Homo sapiens: one gene and its partner. The protein of the gene in region 1 purifies or fractionates together with the protein of each later gene. This does not show direct contact. Each region holds a gene or a part of one and is shown on either strand. Other genes may lie near its edges.

The links.
Region 2: the proteins of KIF13A (region 1) and SMARCAD1 fractionate together in Homo sapiens (co-fractionation; one large-scale study listed by BioGRID). This does not show direct contact.

The regions. Positions count from the first base shown.
Region 1 is NC_000006.12:17,981,001-17,984,825, reverse strand, and holds part of KIF13A (kinesin-like protein KIF13A), read left to right. Parts: intron 1-3,825. UniProt on the Homo sapiens protein: Plus end-directed microtubule-dependent motor protein involved in intracellular transport and regulating various processes such as mannose-6-phosphate receptor (M6PR) transport to the plasma membrane, endosomal sorting during melanosome biogenesis and cytokinesis.
Region 2 is NC_000004.12:94,277,210-94,281,034, forward strand, and holds part of SMARCAD1 (SWI/SNF-related matrix-associated actin-dependent regulator of chromatin subfamily A containing DEAD/H box 1), read left to right. Parts: intron 1-1,212; coding exon 1,213-1,308; intron 1,309-1,406; coding exon 1,407-1,524; exon of another isoform or gene 1,525-1,713; coding exon of another isoform or gene 1,714-1,719; coding exon 1,720-1,841; intron 1,842-3,382; coding exon 3,383-3,571; intron 3,572-3,825. UniProt on the Homo sapiens protein: DNA helicase that possesses intrinsic ATP-dependent nucleosome-remodeling activity and is both required for DNA repair and heterochromatin organization.

The DNA of each region.
Region 1 (3,825 bases):
GAATACTGAGAATGTTATTATTTTTCATATCTGCAAGTCCAAGGTTTGAAGTGTAAGAGGTCTTTAAATGCATATTGGCAAACCTGTGTCAAATTGAGAATTACTGTTTTTCTGAAAGTTGCAAGAAATTACCAATGAATTAGCCATGGATAGAAATTGAAGGTTAGTGGGTGAAAGTTTTCAGTCTTACCAGTAAAAACAAGTGAGAATGCATTGACGTCCAGGGAAAAAAAAAAAAAACAGATGGGGTCAGCTTTCATTGTTTCCCCATTTTACAAAACCAAAGCCAAGACTGTGTAGCTAGGACTAAAAGATCAGAGGATCTCTGAGGTTAAAGATGTTTGTTTTGTTGCTGAAATTCTAGTATTGTAATACATTGCATAGGTCCAGGTTAGTAGTTGATATGTATACTGATCACCATTCTGAAACATTAAGACACATGGATTTGTTTCTTAAAATACCATTGCATTGCTCTCCAGGAGACATTTATGAAGTTCAGATCATTTCAGTACCATGCTCAGCATAGGGGATTCAAAGATACTTGTGGATCCAGTACCTACACCAGAGTCACTCACCTTGGAGAGAAGGAGGAGAGAGAGGAAAAAGTAGTTAAAATACAACGTGGTAAATTACGCTGGTGTATACTTTTGCCATTTCATGAACCACATAATTTCAAAATTCTCTGTTTCCTCTTTCTCTCCCTGGAGGCTGTGAACTGCTTGAAGGCAGGTAGGTACCTTATCCTACTTCTCTTTGTACCTCATGCTCCTGCATACTGGCACTTAGCAAGGGCTTAGCAAATGTGATGGGAGCATTGAGGAGGGGCTGTGGATGCTACCCAAGGTCCTGTCAACTTGCCAAGACAGGTGGTGTTTGTGTGGTCTTATGGATGCTGAGAGCATAGGTTCACTTTTGCAAGACGAGGAGAGAGTCCTTTGCCAATGAAAGTGAAAGCATACCTGCAACACATTGCTTCTGGGTGCTTGTATGTGTGTGAGGTGAGGGGGTGGAGTACCATTCAGAAGCAAGGTAGTTCTGGGCTGGGTGAGGTAGCTCACACCTGTAATCCCAGCACTTTGGGAGGCTAGGGTGGGCGGATCTCTTGAGGCCAGGAGTTTGAGACCACCCTGGCCAACACGATGAAACCCTGTCTCTCCTAAAAATATAAAAATTAGCCGAGTGGTACATACCTATAATCCCAGTTGCCTAGGAGCCTAAGGCAGGAGAATCGCCTGAGCCTTGGCGATGGAGGTTGCCGTGAGCTGAGATCGTGCTACTGCACTCTCGCCTGGGCAACGGAGTGAGACTGCATCTCAAAAAAAAAAAAAAAAGCAGCAGCAGCAAGACAGTTTTGGGGGTGGGGTGGGTGTGGGTGAAGGGATGGAGTGGGGTGAAGGGAGCAATGGAATGAGAATCCCTAACTTGCTAAAAAGGGTGACATACACAGTGAAATGTCTTCCTCTTCACCCCTGCTGTCATCCCTACTTTGCCCATCTCTTCACCTCTCGGAAAATGGGTAGCCACTGTCATTTAGTTCTCATGCCTTTTTTTCCAGATATATATGTGCATTTTTAATACAACTATATACACAAATAAGTATTTATATATTTTTTAAGAAATATCTTTGGTAGCTTTCTTTTTTTTTTTTTTTTTGAGATGGAGTCTCGCACTGTCACCTGGGCTGGAGTGCAGTGGCGTGATCTCGGCTCACTGCAACCTCCGCCTCCTGGGTTCAAGCGATTCTCCTGCCTCAGCCTCCCGAGTAGCTGGGATTACAGGCGGCCACCACCACGCCCAGCTAATTTTTTTGTGTATTTTTAGTAGAGACGGGGTTTCACTATGTTGGCCAGGCTGGTCTCAAACTCCTGACCTTGTAATCCGCCTGCCTCGGCCTCCCAAAGTGCTGGGATTACAGGCGTGAGCCACCACGCCTGGCCCCCTTTGGTATCTTTCAATATCAGCATATTAAGACTTACTCATTCTTTTTTACATTCAGTGTGAATGGTAGTGGTGGTTTTTAAAATATAGGTGGTTGGCTTACGGGTCTGATCCCCGTGACTTTTAGGAAGTGATGCTGTGCTGTGAAAAGAATATAGTGGAACTTGCTTTCTACAGAAGTTTTTGTTCTTAATTATTTTATGTAAGTGAATTGTAAGGTAAGACTCCAAAATAAAGTGCATATCTAACCTACTGTGTAAAAATAAAATGTTGGGCTAAATATGGGCTCTCGGTAGAAGAGCATGAAAGTTTTTAGCTTCCTGTTCATTTTTTCCATATGGCAGGATGAACAATACACCTTGCAAATCGTGTGAGGGAGGGTCAGTTGAAGAAAGCTTCCTCTTACTAAACTTTGTATGTATTTTTTAGTTTATTCACCAGCGGTATCCCTGTCTGAACATCTGAAATCTAAAATGCTCCAAATCCTGGGGGCCAGACACAGTGGCTCACATCTGTAATCCCAGCACTTTGGGAGGCCAAGGCAGGCAGATCACCTGAGGTCAGGAGTTCGAGACCAGCCTGGCCAACATGGTGAAACCCTGTCTCCACTAAAAAAATACAAAAGTTAGCCGAGTGTGGTGGTGCACACCTATAATCCCAGCTACTTAGGAGGCAGAGGCAGGAGAATCACTTGAACCCAGGAGGCCGAGGTTGCGGTGAGCTGAGATCGAGCCATTGCACTCTAGCCTGAGCAACAAGAGTGAAACTCTGTCTCAAAAAAAAAAAAGAATGCTCAGTTGGTAAGTATATAATGCATATATTCCAAATTCAAGAAAAATTCAAAATCCAAAACACTTCTGGTCCCAAGCATTTTAGATAAGGGCTATTCAGTCTGTAAATATTGCAAGTTTTTATTTCTAAGCTGGCTTCCTCCGCCATTCTGAAGGCTTCTAGGATGGTTCCTTGGCTCCTGTGTCTCTGTAGACCAGAAATTTAAATATTAGTGAAAGTCATACATAATTAGAAAGATAAGTCACCTAAGAAGCAGTAATACTCCACATTATAAAATCACCTGTGGGACTTTGAATTCTCTTTTCTGTGTTGTTATTCTTCTCTCTGCCCATATTACAGAGTTAATTGTAAGAAAGCAAAGAATAAGGCCGGACACAGTGACTCAGTGACTCACACCTGTAATCCCAGCACTTTGGGAGCCTGAGGCAGGCAGATCACGAGGTCAGGAGATCGATATCATCCTGGCCAACATTGTGAAACCCCATATCTACTAAAATACAAAAAATTAGCCTGGCGTGGTGGTGTGTGACTATAGTCCCAGCTACTCGGGAGGCTGAGGCAGGGGAATGCTTGAACCCGGGAGGCGTAGGTGGCAGTGAGCCGAGATCATGTCACTGCACTCCAGCCTGGCGACAGAGCGAGACTCTGTCTCAAAAAAAAAAAAAAAAAGAAAAAAGAAAAACAAAACTAAAAGTAATTATAATGCATTGTAGTTTAGAGTGGTTATATTATTTTGTTGACAGTCAACAGTTAAAAATACATTTTACATTATGAACCTGTTTATGTGGATATGTATATTTCAAAGGTTATGAAAAAATACTCTTAACTGTATGCAATGTCTTTTATTTTCTATCCCCTTCTGTTAGAATTCATTAAAAAAATAATGGCTATGTCTTACCGAATTATTTCTCAACCCACTAATGAGTCATAAACTTATATTTTGAAAAACATAGGTTTAGTTAGTAAGAGCTTGGGCTCTGGGTTTTTGTTTTTTTCTTAACCTGTATACACAGTTTAAATTGTGAAGTGGTCATATAATTTATAAAGGCTGTGTTTAAAAAAAAAAAAAAAGTCCCCCTCTTCATTTCTTTCCCC
Region 2 (3,825 bases), on another chromosome or scaffold:
GGGCCATTCTTCTGTTAGGTCTCTTTTGTTGTTTTCATAGTGCATATGCTCTATGAAGTAACTTTAAGTAGGTGATAACTCTATATTTGGATTGGTTTGGAAACCAGCCAAAATATAATGGGAAAGAAAATAGCAATTTCCCTAATCAATGGCCAGAAGTCTTGGTTAATATCCTAATTTTCTGAAGGATGACGATTTTAAATTGATGAAGAGCTCAGATATATAGTATGTGCGGAAAGTTTGATCATTACATCATCTGTATCAAAATTGGCTACGTAAATTAGTAACATTTCTTTATGGGTAAACTATAAAACTAGACAAAGCTAGAATATCCAGAAAATGCCTATGCTGAGAAATATATTCTGAAATAAAAGTTCATAAAACCAAAGTCACAACTAAAAGCGACAGTAAAGAAATCCTCTTCACAAGAAAAGTTTTGTTACTTCTTTATTGTTTAGGAAAAGTATAGTCTTCAAGAACTCCCAGTTTTTTCAATACCGCAGTGTTTACACTGATTCTTGGCTCTCTTCCACATCACTAATCTTTTGCAAGAATTTTCTGTGATACTCGTCCACTGCAAATTAACTGCCTTTTAAACATTTACTAATTTGAATTCCCTCCCACTTAATGTACAGTGTTTTAAATGGCCTAGCAGATTTTATGAACCATTTTCTATCTTCAGTTCATAATATATGGAGGACTCCTTCACATCCTAGAATAAAATTCTACTTCTTAATTCTCCAGAGTCACCAGTTCTGACTAAGCACTATTCCCCATTTTTAGACCAAGTGATTTGCATCAGTCTGCACTAGCTTCCTTTTGGGGCCATTTTCCACAAAGAAATAAAGGATTTTCTACCCCCCACGCTCCTCCTTACCCACACTTAGACACATTTTTCAATGAGAGTTATCTAGGTAATCGATACATGACTCATCAGTTGATGACTTCTGAACACCCATCTGGTACAGTTCAAATTGATTACTTCAGTAGAGAACATGATTACGTATCATAAAACTTCAAAATACATATGGAGCTTCAAGAAGTACATGGCAGCCCAGAATTCAGATGTGAAGTGCCATCTAGAATGAATCAAGTTTCTGCAGAAAATAACTCAGACTCTAATGAGGGAGATTTTTATGTTGTGTAATAATACTGTTATTGCAATAATTTAAGTGAATAATTCCTAAAAGGATATGTTTTTATTTTGCTCAGAAATCAGCAGATGAGCAAAGCATATATGAAAAGGAGAGAATAGCACATGCAAAACAAATTATAAAGCCATTTATTCTCAGAAGAGTAAAAGAAGAGGTAATGCATATCTACATGTTTTTTATTTTTATTGTTTTTAAAACTTAGGTTTTTCTCTTTACTAGAATGATTATCTTAAACTGTTTTTTCTGTCTCAGGTTCTCAAGCAGTTACCCCCCAAGAAAGATCGAATTGAGTTGTGTGCAATGTCGGAGAAGCAGGAGCAACTCTATTTGGGTCTTTTCAACAGATTGAAAAAATCTATCAATAACTTGGGTATAATCTGATTTTTACTCTTTTATGTGAAAAAGAATCTTGTACTGGGGATGCATTTTGTTTAGTCATATAATGGGATTTGTGCATTTTAAAAAATTATCTGGAATTTGAGGAAATAATTTTAAAACTTAGTTGATATATTTCAACAGTTATCCGCTTGGTTTTATTTTTTACTGTGTTCTCTTTGAGTCACAGAAAAAAACACAGAAATGTGCAATGTCATGATGCAGTTGAGGAAAATGGCCAATCATCCTTTATTACATCGCCAATATTACACAGCTGAAAAACTCAAGGAAATGTCTCAGCTTATGCTAAAGGTAAGGATTTCATATTATGTTAACACTAAGCTTTAATAAGAGGTTAAGTTGTTAGGCTATAAGATTGGTGAACCCAATGGGCATACTAAACCTTTAACTACATATTTAAGAAAAACTTTTTTTTTTCAGACCAGGTCTGGTTCTGTTGCCAAGGCAGGCAGTCTGGGCTCACTGCAACTTCTGCCTCCTAGGCTTAAGCCATCCTCCTGCGTTGGCCTGCTGAATAGCTGGGACTACAGGCACGCACCACCATGCCCGGCTAATTTTTTTGTACGGATGGGGTTTTGCCATGTTGCCCAGGCTGGTCTTGAACTCCTGAGCTCAAGCGATTCGCCCGCCTTGGCCTCCCAAAGTGCTGGAATTACAGGCATCAGTCACTGCACTGAAACACGAAAAACACATTTTAGACTAAGTTCAAAATGATCTGGGGGACATAAAAACAAAGAAGGACTGATAACCTACATTATAAGTCAGCAAACTATGGCCTTACGGCAGTGACTATTTTTATAAATAAGGTTTTACTATAACACAGTCATGCCTGTTTTTGTTTTCTGGGACTGCTTTCTCACTACAGGGGCAGAGTTGAGTACTTGCCTTACAGGTCATTTTGCCTACAAAGCCTAAAATATGATCTGGCCCTTTACAGGAACAGTTTGCTAACTCCTAGTCTAGACTTCCATAATGCACTTCTTTTTCATTTTATTTCTTTATAATTTTAGCAATTACTCTTTATTTTTGCCTCTTTCTCCTTTAACATTTTAACCTTATTTATCCTTACTGATCTTTGGTTGAAAGCAACCCATTTTCTTCCTTTTCTTTACTTTTTTTTTTGAGATAGACTTTTGCTCTTGTCGCCCAGGCTGGAGTGCGATGGCATGATCTCTGCTCACTGCACCCTCCGCCTCCCAGGTTCAAGTGATTGTCCTGCCTCAGCATCCTGAGTAGCTGGGATTACAGGCACCTACCACTACGCCCAGCTAATTTTTGTATTTTTAGTAGAGATGGGGTTTCACCACGTTGGCCAGGCTGGTCTCGAACTCCTGACCTTAGGTGATTTACCCACCTCGGCTTCCCAAAGTGCTGGGATTATAGGCGTGAGCCACTGCACCTGACCAACCCATTTCTTTTTAAATTTTTTTTTATTATTTTAAACTTATGGAGAATTTCAAACATTTATAAAAGTAGAATTGCATAATGAAACTGCCCATATGTTACTTCACCCCTTTGAAAGTTACCATTTGATAATAACACCACCCTTGTTTCATCTATACCCCAGACTTCTCCCCAGGGTTATTTTGAACCAAGTTCTAGATGTTATTTCATCTGTAAATATTTTAGTATGTTATCTCTCAAACAGTAAGGACTTCTCCCCCTTTATTATACCTAAAAGATTAATACTAATTTTCCTTGATAAGTCTGTTACACTAAAAGGTTCTATGATTTAGATATTTTATCAGGTATAAACAGTTTTATTAAACTTTTCTCATCATATTATTAATTATTTTTATTTTGAAGTATACTGTGTTTTGTTTTGTTTTAAGGAACCTACACATTGTGAGGCTAACCCTGACCTGATCTTTGAAGATATGGAAGTTATGACAGACTTCGAACTACATGTACTTTGTAAACAGTACCGACACATTAATAACTTTCAGTTAGACATGGACTTGATTTTAGATTCTGGAAAATTTCGAGTTTTAGGATGCATCTTGTCTGAATTGAAACAGAAGGTATTAAAAAAGAATGGCGTTTCTTTTGTATTTTCTCAATTACTTTAACTTCTTAAAGCAATTCTGGCACACTGACTTGCTTGAATTAGCCTATGTCTGTTCTGCATTCTTCCAGAACTTAGTGTTTTGAACATTTTCTTGACGTATTTTCTTGATTACCTCCTTTCCTCTGTTGAACCTCAGACAAAAACAATAGAAAGTTAGTAGACTGTATCTGTATTGATGTTTTAAAAAAATCTTAATTGTCATTATTT